3 separate regions of the Homo sapiens genome follow, and all the other regions are linked to region 1. Evidence: fine-mapped expression QTL. A gene starts in region 1. Each other region holds a variant in brackets. All regions are shown on one strand. Distances are between the middles of the regions.

Region 1 (8,168 bases):
CCCTGTGACCCTTCAGAGCCTGGGTTTGGGGGTGGAGGGGGTGGACAGCTGACCAGGTGCCTGGCGCAGGCCCAGTGTGGTGAGGCTGGGTCGCGGAGGCCAGGCCAGGCCAGCGGCCACGACCACCCACCAGGGACCCTCAGCGTCACGACCCCGGTCCCAAGACCCAAGACAGCAGGACATGGGGGCACAGCCATCTCTGGGGGCCTCTCCTTCCCCCCGCTCTGGGTCCTCAGTCATCAGTGCAGACATGGAGGTGCAGGTGCACGCCGTACACCCTCACCTGGGGCCCCTGGCCCATGCCTCCCCACCCTCCCTACCCTGATCTCCCCCCACAACCCTACACCTCCCCGGACAACCCTGCACCTCCCCCAACAGCCACCCTGCACCTCCCCGCCACAACCCTGCACCTCCCCCAACAACCCTTCAACTCCCCTCTCACCTTGCACCTGCCCCTCACCCTGCACCTCCCCCCATCCTGTACCTCCCCCCTTCACCCTCCACCTACTCCCAACCCTGCATCTCCCCCCAACCCTGCACCTCCCCACATCCTTCACCTCCCTCCTCACCTGGCACCTCCCCCCATCCTTTCCCTCCCCCAATCCTTCACCTCCCCCCTCCCTTCATCTCCCCCCTCACCCTCCACCTCCCCCCCGCACCCTGCACCTCCCACCCTTACCCTGCACCTCTCCCCATCTTTTACCTCCCTCCCACCCTGCATCTCCCCCCAACCCTGCACCTCCCCCCATCCTTTATTTCCCCCCACCCTGCATCTCCCCCCAACCCTGCACCTCCCCCCATCCTTTACCTCCCCCCACCCTGCATCTCCCCCCAACCCTGCACCTCCCCCAATCCTTCACCTCCCCCCTCACCCTCCACCTCCCCCCCTCACCCTGCGGCAAGCAGAGAGCTGACTCCAGCACAGTGAACTTGGAATGATGGAATGCACCCTGGAAGCAGCTCTGACGGGCGCCACCGTGACTGTGCCCAGCAGGGAGCTCCCTTGTGGTTTTTAACAAAAGACAAAATTCCCCAGGTCCTTCTCTGTGCTACAGGAGAAACTGGTGTGGGAGAGGGAACCCAGGCGTGACCAGGGAGAAACTGGTGTGGGAGAGAGAGGGAACCCAGGCGTGACCAGGGCTGCCCAAGCGGCTCCCTGTGAGGCATCAACGCTGGAGACACAGCAGTCATGGGGAACCCGGGGAACCCGGGAAACCCAGCCGCCATCAGAGAGCCAGAGAGCCGCAGGCGCCTGTGCGGGGTCCTGGCCTGGCCCGAGGGGTCAGCACACCCCTGTCTGCCTCTGAGGTCAGGGCCCTGGGGGCTCCTGACCTGGCCTGCCTGTGGGAGGCAAAGGTGTGGCCAGGAGAGGACAGGAGGGGGCAGTCACAGTCACCACTCCTGGAGGCCCATGAAGAGCAGCTTTGCCCCCACACTTCTGTGAAGCCAACTTGGGCCTGTTTGGGAGGGGCCTGGCGCTGCAGCCGGCCGTGGGCACCTGCCATGTGGCGGTCCACTGGAGGCCAAGTCCAGCTCATATGGCTCTGGGGACCCACCGCACCAGACTCCAGTGTGGGGGTACCCGGAGCTGGGGGTGGGTCCTCGGAGGCTTCCAGTCCTGCCCCAGCTGCCATCCCTGCCAGGTGTTAGCGCCTCTGGTTCAGAGTCCCGAGAGGACCAGTGGCCCAGGAGAAAGGGGTGTGTCTCCAGCTGCTGGGAGTGTGGGTGGGAGCCAGAGGGTTCAATGACACTGGGGACAGCAAGTCCGGACTGGAGGGAGGAGACCTCCTGAACAGGGTCCCCAGCACAGAGGCAGAAAGGAGACTCTGTGACTGGGGGTGTCAGCTGCATCTGGACCTTCGTGGTGGGGAGGGAGGCACGCCCAATAGCCCGTCTGAACGGGAGGTGGCTCAGGGATCCCCCATTGTGCTGGTGGGGTGCCCAGAGACTCCAGGACTCCACGTGGGGCTCTGCCTGCTAAACCCTGAGACTTTAGGGGCAGTGGCTCCCACGGCAGGGTCATCCTTTTTCTGCACAGTCCCACTGGCTGCCCCAGGTCCTGCAGAGACCTGAGACTTTGGGGACAAGCACAGGGGACAGGTGGGCGTGGATGGCCTGTGCCGGTCAAGGGCAGTGGGAAGGAAGGAGGAGCAGTTTCCTTCTGTACCCAGGAAATAGAGTAACAAAGTGTCTCATTCCAGTTGGTTCTGGTGGGACAGGGTAGGTGGAAGGGAACCCGTGCTTGCCCTGAGACATGGGGGTGCTGTCTTCCCATGCAGGGGGACTGCGGCTCACCACCATCACATTCTACCCACAGGTTCTTATTTTAACAGATCACAAAGGTACTATGTGCTTCTTGCAAAAATTTACAGGAATTGTAGACTTTTCAAAAAGTAAAAAGAAATTAAAGTTCACCTGTTACCTCAGAGTTATCCAGCTACACATTTTCTGTGCATAATTCACTTTACAAAAATTGGATCAAGATAAAACTAATGATTTTTAAAAATACAGCAATATAGTTGCACATTGTTCCATATCAAAAAATAAATGTGTGCACCCAGGGCTCCTGGCTGTCTCAGTGGCATAGTGGCTCATGCCTGTAATCCCAACACTTTGGCAAGCCGAGGTGGGTGGATCACCTGAGGTCAGGAGTTCGAGACCAGCCTGGCCAAGATGGCAAAACCACTATCTACTTAAAAAAAAAAAAAAATTAGCCAGGTGTGGTGGCGCGCGACTGTAATCCCAGCTACTTGGGAGGCTGAGGCACGAGAATCGCTTGAGCCCTGGAGGCAGAGGCTGCAGTGAACTGAGATCGCACCACTGCTCTCAGGCCTGGGTGACAAAGCAAGACTCTGTCCCAAAAAAGCCCATTTACTCAGCTCACATTTTTGAGCCTCTGCTATTCGACAGGAACCAGAGGTGAGCAGAGCCGACTTGGTGACCCCTGGGGACAGAGCGGCAGAACTCAGCAATTCTGGGCTGCCCTGCAGGAGCTACACCCGGGGAGGGGCGGTGGCCACTTGGGGGCAGGGTGGGCTTCTCAGCTGCGCCCACCCCACCTTGGGAGCTGTGTCTGGAAAAGAGACTTTTCCTGAGCCGACAGCAGACAGCGAGTGCAAAGGCCCCAAGGCCCGCACGCCTTATTCAGAGAACAGCAGGAGGCGCGGGGCGGGTTGGGGGCGTCAGGGAGACGGGGTTTGACTGAGAACCTGGGGGCGCCAGTGACAGCCTCGGCCGCGTTGCTGAAAACCGACCTTGCGGGATGAAGAGGGCGCGGTTCCCCCGGCTGGGATGAGGACCGCGGATGCTGAGGAGCGGACTCCAGGGACCACCGACTCCATGGCCGGCCCCAGCGAGGGCGAGAACGGGTGGAAGCCGGCCAGGGTCTGTGGAGACGTCAGGGTGCGAGGCCAGGCTGAGGTGTCCCCAGGGATCCCCTGAGGGTACAGGGAATTCAGCCAGGGCCTGCGCGCCCGGACGGAGGACTAGAGGGGGCCAAGGACCACCGGGAGGGGGAAGGAGAAGGCGCAGCCCGAGGTCGGAGGGGCCGGCGGGCGCGCAGAGGGCGCGGGGTGAGCCCTAAGGACCTGCAGGCAGGACCCTGCTCTCGGCCGCGCGGTCCCGGGTGCCGACCGGCGGGGTGGGCGGGGCAGGGGCACCCAGGGCCGCACACCTGCCGCGTGGGACCCTGAAATGCCCAGGACGAAGAACGTCGCACGGACGACCCTGCCGTGCCTGGCGCGCGTCCGCTTCCTGGGAAGCTCAGGATCCAAAAGCATCTTAATATTCTCTATAATTCGCCAAAAACCATGACTCCTTTTACATTTTCGAAACGACCTCATGGGGCAGGCGAGGGGGCACACGCTCTCCTCACTTTACCTGTTCGGGTCTACACCGCCCGGCTCTAGGGCCGGCAGCTCAGCACAGCCGGCCGCGAGCGCTGGGGAGGGGACGGGGGCGCAGGGAGAACCGGGGGACCCTGGGCGCACACAGACCCCAGGGGGAACGCAGGGCCTGGAGGGGCTCAGCGCGCGACCCCCGCCTCGGGGCACGGAGACTCCGGGGGATCACTGGGACGCGAAGGGCGCAGGGCGGACCCCAGGGGAACCGGATGGCGTCTCCGGTTCGCCAGGGCAGCTGGGGCAGCCGGACCCGAGACAGCCGGACCCGCGGGCGCCCTCTGCCGCCTCCCGGCCCTGGATGCTGCGGGGCGGGGCGGGCGGCTCGCGTGCCGGGGTGGGGCAGTCCCTGGAGCCGCCGCGGGTTCCCGGGATGCGAGCGCCGGCACCCGCCGCCACAGCTCCTGGCCAGGGCGCGCTGCCCCGCGGGTGTGCCTGAGCCTCCGCGCCCCGCAGGCCCTGGGTAAGTGTCCTGGGCGCCCCCGCAGGCCCCCGCCGCGTGCCGCCCGCGGTGGAGACGGGATGCGCTCCCGGGTGTGGGGCTGAGGGACGGGCGCCGGCGTCGGGACCCTCCTCACGCCGCATCCTCGCGTCGCCAGGCCCGGCGGCCCCGGGACGGGGCGGACACTCTGGGGTGCGGCTGGCTGGTCTCACTTAAAACTCGGACCTCGGAGGGAAGCCGCGGCGCGTCCACGGTTCGTGGTCCTCAGCGTCCCCTCGAGAGTGTTCTGAGCCTTCACTCCCCGGGCGTTCCGTGCGGGCCGCGCTCCCTGGGGCTGGGCGGGTGCGGGCGGCGGAGCGGGGCCCCGCTGTCGGGCCGAGGGCGCCAGGTCCGGGGGGCCTCACCCCCGGGAAAGGCCCATGTTCAGGCTTGGTTTCAGTAGCACCCAGTAGCGCTGAAGTCTTATTTTGAGCGGCCAGAATTCCCAGACCGGATGCCCTGAGAGAGCGATGTGGCGCCTGGAGTCCACGCTGGGACCCCTTCTGGGGAGGGGTCGCCATGGGCGCGTGACAGGCAGGGGCCACCCTCTGACCTCTTCTGCGAGGCCGGAGGTCAGAGACCTTGTGCAGAAGCGTCCCACGGGCCTGTCCCACGGGCCTGTCCGGCTGTGGCCTCCGGGATGGCAAGGGCAGGCGGGGAGGGGCTTCCTCCCTGGGCCTCCTGTGCGCGCGCACAGGCTCTCGTCTGCGGGGTTCTTGCAGAAGGGTGGGCGTGTGCGCGCGTTCTCCAAACGCCACCCCCACGGGGCCTCACAGCCGCCCCGGCCTGGCAACCGTCACCCATTTTACGAACGAGGACATCAAGGTAGGTCGCTCATCCAGCCTCTCAGAGCAAGTGACTGGCGGCGTTTGGACTCGGGCCGAGTGTGCCATACCCATCCCGCACAAAGCCGGGGCTCGATGCGGCCCCAGAGTCGCTGAAAAGCCACGAGTAACAAGAACTGGAGAACGTAGGATGCTGACCCGGCGGACGCCGCCGCCTGGGGAGCCGCTTCGACGGGGGGGACGCCACCGCCTGGGGAACGGCTTTTATTTTCGTTTTCTTACTTATCTGTATTCTCTAAAATGAACAGACACGAGTTTTACCACGGGAGAAAGGTTCTTAGAAAAATTCAGATTTCTCAGAGGAGTGCTGTCAGCTCACAGCCTGGTGGGGTTGGGAGGCCCCAGATGGCCCTGGCCGACCCCTCTGTCCCGTGTGGGACCTGCCCGTGAGCAGCACCCAGGAGTCTGTCGAGGCCCCACCCGTGGTCCCCGGCTGAGCCCCTGGCTGCAGTGGGTAGGGTCCTCCCCTGTCCCCCAATTACCTATGAGGCAGCTTCGACCTGTGTCCCAGGCAGAGAAGAACGCTGCCGTCAGGAGGCCGGGGACAGCTGAGTCTTGCCTCACAGGGGCATTTCTGTGGGGAGTTTGGTCCAGTCCAAAGGAGGCTCCATCTGTTGAGGTGAGTTCATGAGTATTTTGTAAAATGGAACAACCTATTGTAATAGCATCCCTCCTCCTGTATTTAGGCTAGGTATGGCAAGAACTGAGACACACTTCCCTGCCACCCCCTCGCATCTCTGCCAGTAGGGCCAGGAAGTTCAGATATGCTCAGGTGACCACCTGAACTCCGCGAGGCTTTTCTCTAAAGTATTATCAGCAACTGTTTCTCAAACTACTTTATCTTGATCCTTGTGCCAAATTATTTATTTCCTGCAACTGTGAGGCCCCTCCTTCATGTGGCCTGGTGTTCCCGGGAGCAGGCCTTGTGATCAGAGGGAGACGGCTTGTGGCTTAACAGGGTCTTCCCACCTCGTTCACCCGTGCTGGGTGCTGAGACGCCGGGGGAGGGGGAGGCAGCTGTGGTTCCAGCCGTCGTCATTTGCAATGCAGTTGGAGAGATGCCGCCGGGTGGCCCTGACCAGTGTTAAGTGGTTAATACGACACAGAAGCGGGAAAGCGCCATGTGGTCTGGGGTGATCAGGCATTGAAGGAGACTCAACGGAGCTCCTTGCGGAGGAGAGTCGGCTCACAGACAGGCAGGAATGAACAGGCCGATCTGCTAGGGGCTGATGACTCGGGTAGGAAAGACTTGGCGGCCCTGAAACACCTTGCCTAGCTCGCTCTTCCTTCCCTCCTTCCTTCCTACCTTCCTTTCTTTTTTTCTCTTTCTTTCTTTCTTTCTCTCTCTCTCTCTGTCTCTCTTTCTCTCTCTCTCTCTTTCTTTCCTTTTCTTTCGAGACAGAGTCTTGTTCTGTCACCCAGGCTGGAGTGCAATGGCGCTTTCTTGGCTCACTGCAACCTCTGCCTCCCAGGTTCAAGCAATTCTCCTGCCTCAGCCTCCCAAGTAGCTGGGACTACAGGTGTGAGCCACCACACTTGGCTAATTTTTGTATTTTTGGTAGAGACAGGGTTTCACTGTCTCTACTAAATGTTGGCCAGGCTGGTCTCGAACTCCTGACGTCATGCTCTCCCCACCTCGGCCTCCCAAAGTGCTGGGATTACAGACATGAGCCACCACGCCCAGCCGCCTAGCTGTTTCAATGCGATGAGTTATAGCCAAAGGTGCTTCCACTTGGAATTTTTTTTTTAATAAAAATATATTCATTTATATAAAAAAATTAAAAAAAAAAAGAACTGAGGCACAAGCAAAACCTGAAACTGGGCCAGGTGTGGTGGCTCACACCTATAATCCCAGCACCTTGGGAGGCTGAGGCGGGTGGATCACCTGAGGTCGGGAGTTCGAGACCAGCCTGACCAACATGGAGAAATCCTGTCTTTACTTAAAAAAATACAAAAATTAGCCGGGTGTGGTGGCCTATGCCTGTAATCCCAGCTACTCGAGAGGCTGAGGCAGGAGAATTGCTTGAACCTGGGAGGTGGAGGTTGTGGTGAGCCAAAGTCACACCATTGCACTCCAGCCTGGGCAACAAGAGTGAAACTCCGTCTCAAAAAAACAAAAACAAAAAACGAAAAACCCAAAACTGGTTATTCAGGGGGCACTGGCTGTGGGGAGGGGGTAGGCAGGCCAGCTCCTTGGATTTCCTCGGGGCCCCTCCCCCACACCGCCCACAGGGAATATTTATCTGCTTCTGGTGATTTTTACCAGAACCCTTGATTTTAGAACCGTTCCACAGCACTGAGCTGGAGACACCTGGGAGAACGTGGCTTTGCCCAGGCGTTGCAGGGCGAGTAGTCACTGGTATGTGAGGCTGAGGAGGGCAACGAGGCTTCCGTCTCAATTCCGGCTACTCGGAAGGGAGTTTGGGATTTTGGGGACAAGAAGGATCTGCACTAGCCCCACCTCTGACAACATCCCCTGCCCCGCTTCATCTTCCCAGCTGTCCCACCACCCCCCGACCCGCTCTTGCCCTGTGGCTCTGCACTCATTTGGGGACGAGGGTTGGTCAGGCTGGTGGTGCCTGGGCTCAGGGTCTTCTGGGGCTGGTGTAGGTCACCCTATCCCCTTTACCTTCCTTGACCTCAAGGGGTGGTCGAGTGGGTTTGCTCTATGCCCGGCCCACCTTGGGGTGCTGGGAACCGTCTCTGGCCTGTTCTCCCCACCAGACTGGGGCCAGGCTTGGGTGCGGCTTGGGAGTTTCCTGTTTGAGTCGAAAGGCCTTGCAGTTCTGATGGGATGTCCTTGCAGGCTGGCCTCCAGCCACCAAGTGCCCAACCTGGTTTCTGGGAGAAGTGCACTGGGCCAGACACGTGACCATGATGGAGACGAGGCTGGGCATCCCACAGCACCTCGGGGGGAGGGCTGGACCCTTCCGAAGCATCCGT
Region 2 (8,168 bases), 160 kb after region 1:
CGCGGGGACGAGCGGCCGGTTAGCGGCGTGTCGGAGCCGGTGTCACCTGCGGGAGAGGAAGGCGTGAGCGGCGCGCGGAGCCCGGGCGCTGGGGCGGGAGGGGCGTCCCCGGGGGCCTCAGCTGTCCCCGAGCCCGGCGGCTCTCGCCTCCCCTCCCGCGGCGCACCCCAGGCTCGGCGTCCGCTGGGGCCTCCTCCCAGGACCCGGGTTCGCGGGGCAGAGGCGGAAGCAGCAACAGCGAAGCCCCAGCCCGGCCCCGCCACGTCCCCCCGCCGGGGGTCCCGGGACAGCGGCCTCCTCGGCGCAGGAAGGTCCCGCCCCAGGCCCTGCAGCGCGGGAGGTCAAGGTCCCCAAGGGGACCTGCTTCCTCCATCTCAAACCGCCCTGGCGTCCCCCGGGTGCCTCCCAGGCCCCCAGAGGGAGCTCAGAAAGCCCAGACCCCACGGCCCGCCCCTCTCCCTGCTCTGAGCTGGAGGCAGAGTCCGGGTCTGCGGGGCCGGCCCTCCCTGTATCCCTGTGAGAGGGTCGGGGACCCGGGGCGTCTGTCTGGCTTCCCCCAGCCCTGCTCTCAGCTCCCTGGGAGCGCAGGATTTGGACTCGCGGACTAGCTTTCGGAGCCACCTAAAGGAAATCTCAGGCGGCCCTAGTGCCCTCAGCTCCGTGGGAGCAGCAGAGACGCCAGAGTATCTCTGTCCGGGCTCCTGAGGGAGGTGCGGCCAGCAGGGCGCTAGAGGAGGAAGAGGGGCTGCTGGAGAGAGAGAGCGCGCCAGGTTCAGGTCCAGGGAGGAGAGAGAGCGAGCGCGCGAGGCGGAGACCTGGAGGGAGAGGAGCTGCGGAGAGGGGTTAGGCGGGGAGGGAGAGAGAGAACCAGGTTCCGGTCCAGGGAGGAGAGAGACAGCGCGCGCGAGGCGGAGACCTGGAGGAGAGGAGCTGCGGAGAGGGGTTAGGCGGGGAGAGAGAGAGAGCGAGCCAGGTTCAGGTCCAGGGAGGAGAGAGACAGCGCGCGCGAGGCGGAGACCTGGAGGGAGAGGAGCTGCGGAGAGGGGTTAGGCGGGGAGGGAGAGAGAGAACCAGGTTCAGGTCCAGGGAGGAGAGAGACAGCGCGCGCGAGGCGGAGACCTGGAGGAGAGGAGCTGCGGAGAGGGGTTAGGCGGGGAGAGAGAGAGAGCGAGCCAGGTTCAGGTCCAGGGAGGAGAGAGACAGCGCGCGCGAGGCGGAGACCTGGAGGGAGAGGAGCTGCGGAGAGGGGTTAGGCGGGGAGGGAGAGAGCCAGGTTCAGGTCCAGGGAGGAGAGAGACAGCGCGCGCGAGGCGGAGACCTGGAGGGAGAGGAGCTGCGGAGAGGGGTTAGGCGGGGAGAGAGAGAGCGAGCCAGGTTCAGGTCCAGGGAGGAGAGAGACAGCGCGCGCGAGGCGGAGACCTGGAGGGAGAGGAGCTGCGGAGAGGGGTTAGGCGGGGAGGGAGAGAGACAGCGCGCGCGAGGCGGAGACCTGGAGGGAGAGGAGCTGCGGAGAGGGGTTAGGCGGCGGGAGGCCCGGGAGCGTTACATGTGTGTGGACTCGGGGAGGGCGGCGGGGGGCCGCTCCTCGGGGCCGTCTGCCTGCAGGAAGGAGTCCACGGACTTGCTGCTGAGGCGGAAGGGCATCAGGCGGCAGAAGGTGCCGGGAGAGTAGGGAATCTGCGTGCGGGCCCTCTGCGAGGGGACCACCGTCTCCCCGGGAGACAGCCAGGGCGGCAGCCTGGCCAGGAGGCTGCGGTCCAGGGCCTCGTCCGGAGAAAACACAGGGTTGTCAATTCCTAGGAGAGAGGGCAGCGGCTAGTCAGCCTTCGGAGAGCCCCACGGCGGCAGGGGAGACCTCGCCGGGGCCGTCACCTGCTGGGTGCCTTGGAAAGTTAGGGTCACCGGGAAGGTTAGGGTCACGTGCCTTTCAGGTTGCGGGCCCTTCCCCCACATCCATGACCCCACACGCCACAGGCAGCACAGGTAACGTCTCGCTTCCCTCAAGACATACCCCACCTGCTCCCTGCCCGGCCCACGTCTCCCCGGACAGCAGCCTCCGAGTTGGTTGAGGGGGCACTCAGTGGGTGCCAAGCAGGGCCCTTGAGAACCCACAGGAGACCCCACCCCCCCAGGTCCCAGTGCCCCTGGTCCAATGACCGAGCTCCCTCCTGGGGCGGCAGGAGCCACCCCTCCCTTAGCCACGACGCCTGTGCCCCGTCCCCACCTGCAGGGGAGTCGGACGCTGTGTCCTTGGTGACACTAGCCAGGAACTCGATCCCCCCACTCATCTCCTCATCATAGTTGGGGGGCTCCTCGGTGTCTGAAAGTTCCAAGTCTGGGGAAGACAGGTTGGGGTGAGGACTGGGGTCACTGGGGGGCTGTCCTCACAGCCCAGTCAGCAGTGTCCATCAGCTCTGTGCACAGAGGTGCAGGCAGTCGGGACCCACAGAGAGGAGGGCTAAACCGCAGGGCTGGAGGAGGGACCCCACTTAGAGGGCAGTGTCCCTGGAACCCCATCCTGGGTGGGTCTGCAGCTGGGGCCCTGACCATGCCTCCCCTGCCTGGGTGGCTGGAGGGTCCCCAGAGGGGAAGGTCCTGAGAGGGGAGGTTCCCGAGCCGGGAGGGCTGGGGCTGGGAGGTGGTGGCTCCCAGTCCCAGCGTTCCTGCAGGGCCCCCAGCGCACCTTTCTCCTTGATGGTGAAATTCTGCGCAGGGCTCTCCATGGGCAGCTTCCCATTGGGGATGCTGCTGTTTCTCTGCGGAGCAAACGTGAAGCTGCTCACACCCCGACACAGCCACACCCAGCCCTGACTGCCCCCGCTCCAGGCCCCAGCCCCGCCAAGCCTCCTGGTGACCCAGCCTTACCCGCTTCTGGGCACGCTCCCGCTTGTACAGCTTGGCCGCCTTCTTGTTCTGGTTGAGCCCCAGCTTGGTCGACTTGAAGGACTCCAGGCGCTTCCGCATGGTCCTGTGGAAGATTTCCCGGTCCTGTTTCTCGTCCTCCGTGGGCGTGAGCTCGTGTCGGCTGTACAGATGCTTGTACTGCGGGATCAGGCACGGAGGTCACAGCTGTGCCCACCGCCGGACATTCTCGCCCTCCTGCCGCAGGAGCTGAGCACGGATCCCCCGTGGTCCCAGGAGGGGACGAGGAAGCCGCCCCACGGGGTCCCTGCGGGGTCCTCCAGCCCCCAGCCCGCAGTGCCCACCTCCTGCCGCGGCTTGTACAGGTACTGCTGTAGCGTGTGGTGCGTGACCATGTCCTCCGCGTCCCGGATGCTCCGCCGTCGCTGCTCCAGAGACTGCATGTCCAGGCAGACAGCGCTGACATTTTCTCTCCTGCGTGGGGACCAGCGCTGAGCCATACAGGCTCCCTCAGGGTGGGGTCTCTTGCGCGCCCCTCGCCTTCCCACGGC[G/A]GGCATCTGGCCCTGGCTGCCTCCTGCGTGCCCCTCGCCTTCCCATGGTGGGCACCCGGCTGGGGCACGGGGACATCTGCCATCTGGCCAGCCCCTTCTCCCCTCGGGGCTTAGGCTGACTCCCCACGAGGCCTTCCTGGCCTCCTGTCTGAAGTGGGTCCCTTTCCTTACTGGTCCCTCTCCAAAGCCCTGGCTGTAAGACTCGGGGACCCCAGCATCTGCACATCTGGCAGAGTGGACCTCCTATGAGAACTGGCTGTGAGCTGTGGAGCCCAGGGCCGGAGGAGCAGTAAGGGTGGCATGGGGACCAGGACAGGCTGCTGCGGGCCAGGGGCAAACACGTCAGGCCTGGCCCCCAGTCCGCTGCTGCCCCTCCCTTTCACCTTCCATCCAGCACTAAGGGAGTCTGGCCACGGCCTAATATAGGAGGGCTTGTGGAAGGAGACACCCACCCCCTCTTTCTGCACCTCTCCCCTCTTCCATGCCACCCCCAGGCCAGGAGCCACCACAGCCCTGTCTGTGACTCTCAGCTCCCGAGGCTGGGCTCTTCCCCAGGGAAGCTGCATGACCATGGCCACATACAGGAGGTAGGAGACAGAGGCCTCCACGGTGGACGATCGTGGCGTGAAGTCCACGTTGACCACGTTGTCGGTGCTGGGGGAGCGGATGAAGGCCAGGGACCCGCGGCGCTCTCCCTGTGGTCAGGAAGCAGCCCGGTCAGTGGCCTGAGCAGCCAAGCCCTAGCTGCTGCCATTGTGTGCCCTGGGGGGAAGCGCCCAGAGCTCGGGGCCCGGGGAAAGCCTTGAGACCTGAGCCCCGGGTTCACGCCTCACAGCTGCAGAGGGAGGGGTGGAAATGCCAAAACCAGGAGATCAGATTTTGAGCCCCTGTCCGTCTGAGGCCACAGCCAGGCTGCTGCCTGAACTGGGCAGAGGTCATGCTTGTGGGAGGACACAGTGGTCTGAGTGTGAAGGGGTAAAGCTGCCTGGGACTTGGGATGTGTCTGGGGAAAGTGTTGATACTGCAGAATCATTGAAGTGGTCTCTGTCCCTGCAGGAGACCCTAAAACTCCATTGGCCTCATGTCCAGAACTGAATCAGGTAGAGAACGGAGCAGAGCCCGATGGGGCACAGAAGCCACACAGCTGAGTGCCAGAGGATGGAAGTGGGGCCGCCTATGTGTCCTCAGACCCCACCCGCCTGATGGCAGGGCCTGGAGAGCATGAGGTTGTGCAGGAGCACAGGGCAGAGTGGGCTTATGGCTGGAGTCAGGGTCCCCAGGGCCGGCAGGGGCACGGGTGTGGAGGGAACGTCAGCTCACTGCACTCAGACCTCGCCAGGTGGGCACCCGTGCCGCCTTCAGTGTGCAGGATGCTCCCAGGGAAGCCCCCGGGGTCAGGTGGGTGCCGCTGTTCCCACTGAAGATGCGGCCCCCAGTTCACTGCCCACTCGGGGGGGATTTGAGGGTCATTGGTTCTGAGGGCCCTCCGCCTGCTCTTTTGCTTCTAAATCCAGCATCTTCTGTATGACCTTTGTCCCGCTCCTGCCACCCCACGAAGACAGACGTGAGGGTCAGGGGAGCCACGGTGCTAACTGCCACTCTGGGCGGGCACAGGCGAGGGCTGTGCAGCACCCGGGCACGTGGGGTCTTCGGAGGGGCTGCTCCCCACACCACTTCCCCTGCCCCTGCCGAGCCCTGCCGTGGGGTGGGGGGGCGCAGGGAGAGAAAGCAGCCGCCCTGGGTGAGAGCCAGGAGGGACACTGGGCAGGCAGATGCCACCCCAGGTGTGGGGACCCCCGCTACTGAGTGGCCGGGAGGAGCCCACAGGCTCCCCACATGCAGCTGAGCCCAGGGTTGTGGTCGTGGGTCGTGGGTCAAGGATGGTGGCTGGTGTGGTTGGGGGAGAGGCTCAAGGCCCGCCTGCCAACCTTGTCACCTATGTGGGGGTGAGGGGAGCCCGCCAGAGGCCAGAGCCCCCACTGTCCCTTCCCACCCTCCAGCCAGGCTCCAGGCCTCCTAGGGCCAGAGTATCTGAGCTTTCTCTCGCTTGCCGGGCCTGTGGTTTGGGGGTTTGTGTGGAGCCTGGTCCAGGAGCCCTCCTTCCTGATCTGCACTGGCTGGCCCTCCTGACAGCCCCAGGCCCCCGTGCCCTCTGCCAGGAGGTGCCTTGCCACTTGGCATGGCCCCAGTCACGGGTGGCACATCTGGGGTGAATGCACGTCAGTGGAGGCAGAATCATTCTGTCTGAATGAATGGAGTTTCCAGGCCCCCACTGGCCCTCTGTGTGAGGGTCTGCAGGGTTTGGCAGGACAGGTCTTTCTCTCCGGCGAGAGCACCCACCCTGACCGGCTGCTGGATGAGGGCACCAAAGCTCGCTAGGGAGGGCTCTGTCCTTAGGGAGGAGCTGCGGAATCCCTGCAGCTGTGCCCCCAGGCCCTGCCTTGCACACTTCCTGCAGCCAGGGCGCCCCTGGGGAGGTCAGGGCAGGCCGGGGAGGCTGAGGCCCACCTGCCATAGTGGGCAGGTGCGGGAGCCAGGGCGGCAGTGGCCTCGGGGCTGGGTGGGGCGCCTGGCCTCTGGTCTCTGGAGCAGTCAGGGGCTCTGCAGACGCTGAGAGGCCTGCTCATAGTGGACTGGGAGATGCTGGAGCAGCCTCAGAGCCATGGCCGGCCCACAGCGGGAGACGGCCCTGCTGCTGCCCCTCTGCCTGTGCGTGTGCACCTGTGGGCACCTGCGTGTGCTGGGGCAGGCAGGGCTGTATTGGGACCAGGTCCCGTAACAGCCTGCCTGCTTACCGTCTGCTCCCATCCCTGGGGAAAGCAAGGGAGCTCGGGGTCCTAGGACCTGACCTCAGCGCTCACCCCCACCAGCACCACAGTCACCAGGACTCTGTGACTCAGTTTACCCCACGAGAGCCCCTGGGATTCCCAGGGCATCAGAAGGCCCATCAGCCTCCCGTGAACTGCTGGGGTGGGCCTGGCCTTGGGACGCGGGTGCAGGGGCCTCTCCTCACTGCCCCATGGCACCCACAGCCAGTGCCAGAGCCTGCTGCAGCCCCGACCCGGCAGAGCAAGCGGCTCTGCTACCTCAGCCACGTAGCTGATGGCATCCTTCAGGTTCAGCTCGTGGAAGACATTCAGGATCCGGTCTCGAGACTTCTGGGCCGACCGTCTCATGAGGACCCTGCTGAGGAACTTCCTGTCGAAGTGGGACCACCTGTAGGGACAGACCTTGGGTGTGAGCCTCAGGTGACAGGCGCCCTAGAGCCCGCCGGACGCGTGGCCCGGCCCCTTCTCTCCTGAATTTTGTTTGCTATAGTGACCCTGTAGGCGCGTTTAAAATGAGGGAAGCAGCCCCTGCCACACGCCCAGGCCGTCCGCCGTTCTCCCGCCTGTCCTGTTGGATGGAGGCCGTTAGACGCATATGAAACTGCATGCCGCCTCCTCCAGAGGGTGGCTCAGGACACGGTGGGTGTCAGGCCTGGTCAGGCAAGGGGGCTTTGGCCACATGGGGGGCACCTTCAGGTGCACAGGAGGAAGGGCAGGGGCGGACAGACACCCTGAGCCCTTAGACTTGTGGGAGCCAAGCTGACCAGAGTGAGGTTTTTTTTAGCCTAACGGAATTAGAGTATTCGCTGGTTATCCAGATCAGAAGGGACGGTGGCCTGGCCGGACTTAGAGGAAACTCTGGGGCACAAGGAGGTGATGCCTGTCACTTGGACATGGGTGCAGCCGCCAGAGCCGCCCTCCAGGGCACAGGGTGGGCCCGGGTGAGCTTGTGTGCTCACACCTGGGCAGGCCCCGCGGCAGCAATGGCAGCTCTCCTGTACAGGCTGAGTTTCAGCCACACCAAGAAGTCAAAGCTAACCGAGGCTGTGCCTTCCGAGACCCCCGGGATGGCCCCTGGGAGGCCAAGGAGTCGGGGACTGGGTACCCGGAGCAGAGTCACTGTGGCCACGGAGAACCGCAGCTGAGCTTTATGAAGCCACGTGGCCACACCTCCCGGTGCCTCCACCCCAAGCAAACACAGATCGCTCAGAAAATGGGAACCCAGGGCAAATTGTATGTGCTCCTTACTGGGTTTATTATAAGTGTCACATGTTTTTTATAATAAAACATAGGTGATTTCACCTTAATGGACAAACTCTTTTTTTTATTTTGGGACGAAGTCTCGCTCTGTCACCAGGCTGGAATGTAATGGCGCAATCTCGGCTCACCGCAGCCTCCACCTCCCGGGTTCAAGCGATTCTTGTGCCTTAGCCTCCTGAGTAGCTGGGATTACAGGCCCACGCCACCACCCCTGGCTAATGTTTGTATTTTTAGTAGAGACGGGGTTTCACCATGTTGGCTAGGCTGGTCTCAAACTCCTGACCTCAAGTGAGCTGACCACCTCAGTCTCCCAAAGTGCTGGGATTACAGGCTTGAGCCCTGCCAGACAAAATCATTTTAAATGTTGACTGATACTAACCCTGTTTATGACGTGGAGGAAATAATCTATTTGCCTTATTTTCAATTCCTACATAACAATTTGGAATTAATTGGGCCACATGAGAGGGCATCTCTATTCCCTGGAAGGAGCACAGAGAATTCAGCTCCTGTCCCCTCACTCGGTGGCCCCAACTGCTGCCGCCAACTCCTTTCCGCAGCACCTGCGTGTCTCGGGGCACACCTGGCACCTGGCCTCATGGGGCACCGGAGCCCTGACCAAGCCTGGACTCAAACAGTTGTTATGCATGTGGCTTCTGGTTCTTCCGAG
Region 3 (8,168 bases), 180 kb after region 1:
GGACTGCTGTGAAGGACACAGTCAGCCGGACTTTGCTTAGTTCACCTGTCGGAGCCACTCGTTCACGTTTATCTCTGTCTGGTTGTCAGAATAAATTGTTTCCAACCAGGAAACAAGGATATCTCTTAACACAATTGTTCTATTCTTTGGTTATTCCTCCACTTCAAAGAAGCTTCCTGAAGCTTCCAGATCCCCTGCAGCCCCCCTGAGCCGCTGACCCTGACCCCTGGGAGTGAAGCCTCATCTGCCCCTGTCCTGGGTGGGGTCGCCCGGCCGCATCCCCAGCCTCTGCCCCTGTCCCGGGTGGGGTCGCCCGGCCGCATCCCCAGCCTCTGCCCCTGTCCCGGGTGGGGTCGCCCGGCCGCATCCCCAGCCTCTGCCCCTGTCCCGGGTGGGGTCGCCCGGCCGCATCCCCAGCCTCTGCCCCTGTCCCGGGTGGGGTCGCCCGGCCGCATCCCCAGCCTCTGCCCTCCGACAACTCAGGCACCTGCTGGTCAGCTATGAAGCCTTAGCCTCGCTTGTGGGAGTCCCTGCCTCACGGATGCCGGCCTCCTGCCTCGGCCACCGCCCTCCTCTTCAAGGATGCTGTTTTGCCTCTGGTCGCTCTATCTTATCTTTTTTCTCCGCACTCCTGGACGTCTCTCGGACCTTTCGCTCTGACAGTGGCTTGAGCCTCGGCCGCCACTTCCGCCCCTGCTACTTCGGGGCCACGTCTCGGTCCGACGCTGAGGGGTGCTGCCAACCGTGTCTTCTCTGTGAACGTCCTCACGATGAACGCCCCCGTTCCACTTCCCACCCTGGAGCTGCTGCTTCCGTGACTCACATTCCGGCCATTTCCGTGGTGTGAGGTACGGGCGGGACTCCTTCTGCTTCTTGTCACACTTGTCCCGGGCTGGGCTCTTCCCCGCCAGCCCCACTTCCTGCCTTCCAGCATCAGTCCAGCCACTGAGCCCTTTTCTTTTGAGACATCATCTCGTTCTGTCACCTGGACTGGAGTGCAGCGGCACCACCTCGGCTCACTGCAACCTCCGCCTCCTGGGTTCAAGCGATTCTCCTGCCTCAGCCTCTGAGTAGCTGGGATTACAGGCGTGCGCCACCATGCCCAGCAAATTTTTGTATTTTTTGTAGAGATGGAGTTTCACCATGCTGGCCAGGCTGGTCTTAAACTCCTGGGGTCAAGCGACACGCCCACCTCGGTCGTCCACAGTGCTGGGATCACAGGCGTGAGCCACCGTGCCTGGCCAACCGTGTCTTCTCCCCTTGCTTGTGCCCGCCGTGGAAGGTTCTGTGGACATTCTCTGCACAACCCCGCTTTGGGAAGAGTGCCCCTGCTGGCCTCGGCTGCCTCTCCTGGGGTGTGTCTCCCTGCTGAGCTGGCTTTGGGTGGGACACTGCTTTCTACCCATTCTCCTGTGGCAGAGGAGTCCTGCAGCGTCTCCTCTGGTATCGGATGGCAGTTTCGCCCCAGCCAGGGTGGGGGGTCTCCTGGGCTTCTGCTTCTTCCTCCTGAGGAGGTGCCAAGGCCAGGCCTCTCCTTGGTGACCCTGCATCTCCCTGGTTTGGGACACTGGACTGGGGACCAAGAGAGGGGAAGGGTCTCGTTCTCATCTTCTCCTGAAACCAGGGGCTCTGCGGTTGATGGAAGTCCTCAGAGGGCGTCCTCAGCCTGGGGCTGGTCTGCTCCACACGGCTTTTCCCAAGGACCCATGGCCTCCTCTTGAACGGCAGTCTGCATTGTAATTAGCTGGTGAAACCAAGAACTCAATTGGTTTTAAGAGGCAATTTGCTAGTAGTTTGGCAATTAAGCACACAATGGACGTTTGGGAGCCAAGTCCCTGTGCTGTGAGCCCTGCAGGGTCCAGTTCCTGCTGCCAGTCGGTATTGAGTGCCAGGGACTGGCCTGGCATGAGGGCCTGACCCGGGCAGTGCTGTCCACATGCACACAGCCGGGGCCACCCCGCTTTCTGGGGGCATCTGCCGGCACCAACCAGGCCTGGGCCTGTGGTTAGGGCCTGTTCCACAGACTCATTCCAGGCAAGGCGCTTACTTACTGCCACAATCTGCACGTTTTTAGGATGGGATGACGACACTTGGGTTCCAGGGTCCCTGTGTGGAAACGTCCCCACATGCTGGGCCGTCCTTCCTTCCTGTGCCCTCTGTCCGCCATCTCCAGACACCGCCCAGTGCCTGATGCCGTCTGCAGCTCCCTCTGGTCTGACAACCAGTCACTCCTGCTCCCTGGGGACACGTGGGCCCTCGAGGCTCTAGAACGGGAGGGAGGTGGCTGGCAGGGCCCGAGATAATGCCAAGGTGGCTCCTAGAGACCTTGCATCTGCGCATAACGTCTCCGTAGATCAGCAGAAGGCCCAGCCACTCCCAGTCCAGGGTCCAGCCCCTCTGTAGGGGCCACTGCTCAAGCCAGCATGGCTACAGAGATACCATGGGAGTGTGGAGGGGCCACTGCACCTCAAAGAAGAAGGAACCCACAGCCCTGGGCCCCGTCGGAGCCACCACAGGCGCAGGGCACAGCCTCCTCGGCCCAGAGCTGTTGGGCAGGAGCTGCAGGGTGGCTGGGACGCAACAGGCAGCGACATCTTCAACCTTCTACCAGAAGAGCCTCAGGTCCACCGCACTGACTGCGGCAACCCCGGCCCTGTGGGTTGAAAGGGCAGAGGGTGTCTGAGGCCTTAAGGAAATGAAGAGAATAGAACTCGCCCCATGGCACACACTGTGAGGGAACCAGGCGGTGTGGGACCCTCCCGAGACGCACTATGCAGAGCCTGGGCTCAGCCACACAACTGCAGAAGCCAAACCACGAGAAGCTCCACAGACGGAACCGGCTTCCGGCACCACTGGGACACGCCACGAGGCTCCCCCAGCTAGGTGCACACACGGCATGCGACTGGCGTGGATCCCTGGCGAGAATGGAAGGGGGGGTGGCAGGAGACGGGGACGGGACCCTCCAGGGACACAGGAAACACACACCAAGCACGGAGAGGCCAGGCGGGCCGGTGTGGACAGGGGGCCGGTGTGGACACGGGGCCAGTGTAGATGGGGCCAGTGTGGACGGGGCTGGTGTGGGAGGGGCTGGTGTGGATGGGTCAGTGTGGACACAGGGCCGGTGTGGACATGGGGTCAGTGTGGAAGGGGCCGGTGTGGATGGGGCAGGCGTGGATGGGGCTGGTGTGGACATGGGGCTAGTATGGATGGGGCTGGTGTGGATGGGGCCGTGTGGATGGGGCCAGTGTGGATGGGGCTGGTGGGTGTGGACGGGGCTGGTGTGGACGGGGTCAGTGTGGACACAGGGCCAGTGTGGACATGGGGTCAGTGTGGAAGGGGCTGGTGTGGATGGGGCAGGCGTGGATGGGGCTGGTGGGTGTGGACGGGGCTGGTGTGGATGGGGCCAGTGTGGACACAGAGTCAGTGTGGACATGGGGTCGGTGTGGACGAGGCTGGTGTGGACACGGGCCGGTGTGGACAGGGCCAGGCCCTGAGTCCGCCTGCCACAGCCCGTGTGGCTTCCACACAAGGGGACAAACCTGGGGACACGCAGGCCCTCAGGTAACTGATTGCCGAGGCTGGAGAGTCACAGCTAATTAAGCACACAATGGCTTGGTGGCCTGATGGTTACGACAGGGGACAGACGCTTTTAGTTCTAATTACAAACCCTGTGCCTGGAGGAGGAAGGGCCGGCGCTGGCAAACCAGACATTTCCGGATGGGCGCCGGAAAGGGCTTCTCTCTGGGCCCCGGGGGGCTCAGGAAGGCCACGGCCCAATGCATGTCACACCCCTCGGAGCACAGAGGGACGGGGCTTGGTCAGGCCCAGGGCCTCCGCCACCTCCAAGGACCTTTCAAGGTGGCAGAGATTCAGCCGAGTCCACAAAAATGCAACAGCGCAGTCAATCCTGTGGTTTTACTTTAACAGGAACACGTCCCGGAGGATTAAACTCTGCCTCCCAGAAACAGCCTGGCTGAGCGGTGGGGCGGTGAGGCCAGGAAGGAGGGCGGAAGCACAGGTACCCACCCTCCCGGGGGACGAGGGGCCGGGGCATTCCACAGGCAGGCGCAGACACATGCAGGAACACGTGCACGCACACAGAGACTCGCAGAGACGCAGAGACGTGCAGAGACACACAGAGGAGACACGCACAGGGTCCACCCTGTTCTCCTAGCACAGCTGTGGGTCTGAGTTCTCTGCCACCCGCCCCTGCAGGTCCAGCAGAGCTCGCCAGCACACTCTGACCTCAGTATCACTTTACCCGCCTGTGGGGCACCGGCGAGGAATCACGGTAAATGTGTCGGCCGTCAAGCCCAGGGCGGAGGTAAAGGTGCTCACGGAGGTCCGCCGTGCGGCCTGGCAGACGTGCCTGCGTGACCCCACGCGTCCCTGCCTGCGGGTGCAGTTCCCCGTGAGTACTCAGGTTGGCGTGGGACAGGGGAGCCGGCTCCCGGGGGCCACGCAGGAAGCCCCTCTCCGAGCGAGGCCGGGCCCCCGGGCCGGGAAGCTGCTTCCTGCCAGATGAAGTTCACACAGCTCCAAGAACAACAGCCCGTTCAGGACTGGACTCCCTGCGCTCAAGTCACAAGGCGTTTTACACATTGTACATTTACAACACTCGAGCAAACCTGGTCGGTTTTTAAATTGAAACATGAATGTTGCCCACGGTTCCCTAGAGAATCAGGAGATCCTTCGACTCCAAACCACCCTGAGCAACCGCGCTGGGGCAAAATGAACGCAGCCTCTGAGCCAGCCACGGCCTCTGTCCAGGACGCTGGGCAGACCCCACACCCCTTCCTCTCTGGGACCCAGCCGCTCCGGCCCCCCACCCCCAGAGACGGCCCAGGCCCCCTTATTAGCAGCGTGAGAACAGACAGACACAGGCAGGTCCCAAGCTGCCCACAGCAGAGGAAAGACCTGGATGCAGATCCCAGCTGCCACCACCTCAGGGCTTTGCTCA[A/C]AGCAGCAACAAGCTTCAGCTACCGCAGACCCAGCGGCGCCTACCAGGGGCCGCAGCGGAGCACAGTCCCCGGCAAGACACCGGTCGCAACGTCCTGGGGCAACGGAAGTCACGAGACACGTGAAGTGGGAATGTGGCCCAGCTCAAATCAGAGGAGAACGCAAGATGGTCAGACCCTGGAATCAGCAGACAAGGGCCTAAAACAGCAGCTCAAGGATAGAAAAGAAACGTTCTCATAACCACTTAAAAAGGACAAGCCGCAGCGGTGGAGTGGAACAGGGCTTGGCACATTTTTTCTTAAAGGCAGATTGTGAGTATTTTAGGTCCTGCAAGCTGCCAACAGGAGGATCACTTCATAACCACTCACTACCAGTGAGGCCGAAAGCCGCTGTAACGACACAGACGGGCGCCGAAAGCCGCCGTAATGACACAGATGGGCGCTGTGTTCCAGTGAAACTTTACCACTCACTACCAGTGAGGCCGAAAGCCGCCGTAACGACACAGATGGGCGCTGTGTTCCAGTGAAACTTTACCACTCACTACCACTGAGGCCGAAAGCCGCTGTAACGACACAGATGGGCGTTCCAGTGAAACTTTATTTACAACAACCAGTGGCCGGCCCACGGGCTGTAGTTTGCTGATGCCTAAAATAGAACTTATCAAAGAGAACCAAGCAGAAACCCTAGAATCTCTGACATAAAAACTCAATGGATAGACTTACGAGCAGACAGAAATGACAGTAAAGAGAGTGAACTGGAAGACAGATCAGAAGAAATCATCCCATCGGAAGACCAAGGAGAAAAAATGGTTTTTAAAGTAACCAGAGCCTCAGTGGCCTGTGGGGCAAAATCAATAGCTTGTAGCCGCAGCACTTTGGGAGGCCAAGGCAGGAGGATCGCTTGAACCCAGGAGTTCAAGACCAGCCTGGGCAACACAGCAAAACCCCTTCTCGACAAAATAAATTAAAACATTAGCTGAGCCTGGTGGTTTGTGCCCATAGTCCCAGCTACTCAGGGGGCTGAGGCCAGAGGGTCCATTGAGCCTGGGCGGGTTGAGGCTGCACCCCAGTCTGGGTGACAGTGAGCGAGGCCCCCATCCTTGCCCAGAAAAAGGCCTGATATATGTGTAGCTGGAGCTCTGGAAGGAAGGGAGAATGGGGCGGGGAAACCTTGAAGAGCGAATGGTAAAAAATGTCCCCAGTTTGGTGAAAGACACACATTTATAGATTTGAGAAATTTTGCAAGCTCCAAGCAATGCAAGTACAGGGAAAATCCTGCCTGTGGGCACGGCACAGTCAGACTGCTGAAAATCAAAAACAAATGGAGAATCTTTCCATCTGTATAATGTGTGTGAGTTACCAATAAAGAACTTTCTTCTTGTTCCATGAAATGGGCAAGGAAGGCGTGTCTGCTGGAAATCTCATCCACGGCTGTGGTTTCTCCTGAATCGGCGAATCGTCTGCGCGAGGCTGGGGCCTCTGGACAGAAGACTGGGCCCCCAGAGCTCTTGGGGGGTTCCCATCTTCACCCGGTGCCTGGATTCTCAGGGTCCCACCCACCCCCACCTTCCTCACACTTCACCCTCTCTTCTCTCTTGCCCTTATAAAATCATTCACTTCAAAGTAGAAATTATGAAACCGTCTTCATCAATCACGGAAGTTTAGCATTCCCCGTGTTTTTGCCTTTGGTTTATCAACAACTAAACAAGGGAAGGGAACAAGCTTCTGCAGAAGCTTCCAGCAAGGAGACAGCGTCCTATATGAGGCGCCTGGGGAGGGAAGGTGCCGGAAGGCATCGCTGTGGGGCTGCCGCCAGCTCCGGAACCCCCGGGAACCCAAGGGGCACACGTCTCCCCGTGTTCTTGCAGCCCCCGCGTCCCGTGACCCACCCAGGAGGTGTGACCTGCCCTCCTTGCTTCAGGCTCCCCTCTGTAAAGTGAGGAAATAGCCCCCCGGGGCTGCAGCCAGGGCCCAGGGCGGTGGACATGCAGGGTCCAGGACTGGCTGAACCTTGAGCCGCTGCAGGGGCCGTTGGATTTGGCCCTCGGGAGAGAACTCCACAGCCTCCTCCAGTGTGTCCGGCGGCGGCAGCCAGGGAGGGTGCCGGGACCTTCAGACCACACAGCAAGCGGCCAGATCTCAGGCTCCCCGGGCTCACGGCCCCGCTGCCTCCTCCTGTCACCCCCGGGTGAGCCCAGAGGGCTCGGGGTGGGGACAGCAGACAAACCCTCAGCTGCTGGGCAGTGCCTCCCTCTGGGGCCATGGGCACCGGGACCTGCACCCCTCAGCGCTGTGAGGCCACTGTCTCTAAACGTGGGGGCTGAAGGGGAAGGGGTGTTCGTGCCCAGCTCCTGGCCGGCCACCGACATGGCCCCTTCATGGGGGCCGGGCCAGAGGCTCAGAAGGGGAGGGCAGGGGTGCGGCTGGTTGAGTGGCATACAGCGGGGGCTCACACCTCGGCTAGCAAAGTGGCTCCCAGACCCGGACGCCTGTGCCTGGAAGAGCAGCAGACGCCTGCAGGGCACAGTGGCCACGTGGGCGCCACACAGAGCCCAGTGCTGAGAAGCAGGGGCCAGCAGCTGCCACCCCTCCCCTGCTTTCCCTGTGCAAATGGGAAAAGGCCTCAGAACAGCGTGGACGCAGTGACCCCTTTAACAGAATGAGGGGATGGAATCCCGGGTGGCTGGAGACCTGGACAAATGAGAAACAGCATCCTCCTCCATTTTTAGCTTCAGAGGCTCTTAAGGGAGGGAGGCTGCTGTGGGAGGAGCATCTGGATGTGTGCTGGGGGGTGACCATCGAGGGGGGTGGGGGAGAGTGACCATGGGGGGGGGAGAGTGACTGTGGGGGGGTGGGGAGTGACCACGGGGTGAAGAGTGACTGTAGGAGGGTGGGGAGTGACCACGGAGAGGGGAGAGTGACTGTAGGGGGGTGGGGAGTGACCATGGAAGGGGGAGAGTGACTGTTGGGGGGTGGGGAGTGACCGCGGGGTGAAGAGTGACTGTAGGAGGGTGGGGAGTGACCATGGAAGGGGGAGAGTGACTGTTGGGGGGTGGAGAGTGACCACAGAGGGGAGAGTGACTGTGGGGGGGTGGGGAGTGACCACGGGGGGAGAGTGACTGGGGGGGTGGGGTGGGGAGTGACCACGGAGGTGAGAGTGACTGTGGGGGGGTGGGGAGTGACCATGGAAGGGGGAGAGTGACTGTGGGG

The links.
Region 2: its variant is fine-mapped to the expression of AHRR in whole blood (TOPMed, PIP above 0.99).
Region 3: its variant is fine-mapped to the expression of AHRR in whole blood (TOPMed, PIP above 0.99).

Annotation. Positions count from the first base shown.
Region 1 is chr5:317,458-325,625 of GRCh38, forward strand. It overlaps AHRR (aryl hydrocarbon receptor repressor), which reads left to right and starts at 4,257. Exons shown (of 11, transcript NM_001377236.1): 1 at 4,257-4,362. All of the region lies in intron 3 of PDCD6-AHRR (PDCD6-AHRR readthrough (NMD candidate)), which reads left to right. RefSeq lists enhancers at 1,060-1,359, 4,493-5,060, 5,149-5,268 and silencers at 3,469-3,728, 3,879-4,368, 4,459-4,838, 4,849-4,908.
Region 2 is chr5:473,337-481,504 of GRCh38, forward strand. It overlaps SLC9A3 (solute carrier family 9 member A3), which reads right to left. Exons shown (of 17, transcript NM_004174.4): 10 at 6,500-6,629; 11 at 3,996-4,108; 12 at 3,207-3,336; 13 at 2,866-3,042; 14 at 2,684-2,756; 15 at 2,225-2,335; 16 at 1,547-1,796; 17 at 1-46. The coding sequence ends at 43. SLC9A3-AS1 (SLC9A3 antisense RNA 1) reads left to right here. Exons shown (of 7, transcript NR_125375.1): 1 at 1-63; 2 at 1,801-1,983; 3 at 2,896-3,227; 4 at 3,908-4,000; 5 at 4,470-4,513; 6 at 6,446-6,880; 7 at 7,026-7,556. Among named protein-coding and RNA genes, the nearest start is that of SLC9A3-AS1, 4.2 kb to the left of the region's middle. RefSeq lists a silencer at 1-607 and enhancers at 1,792-2,432, 4,828-4,997. The variant G/A (reference allele first, on the strand shown) is at 3,414.
Region 3 is chr5:497,459-505,626 of GRCh38, forward strand. All of the region lies in intron 1 of SLC9A3 (solute carrier family 9 member A3), which reads right to left. Among named protein-coding and RNA genes, the nearest start is that of SLC9A3, 23 kb to the right of the region's middle. The variant A/C (reference allele first, on the strand shown) is at 4,961.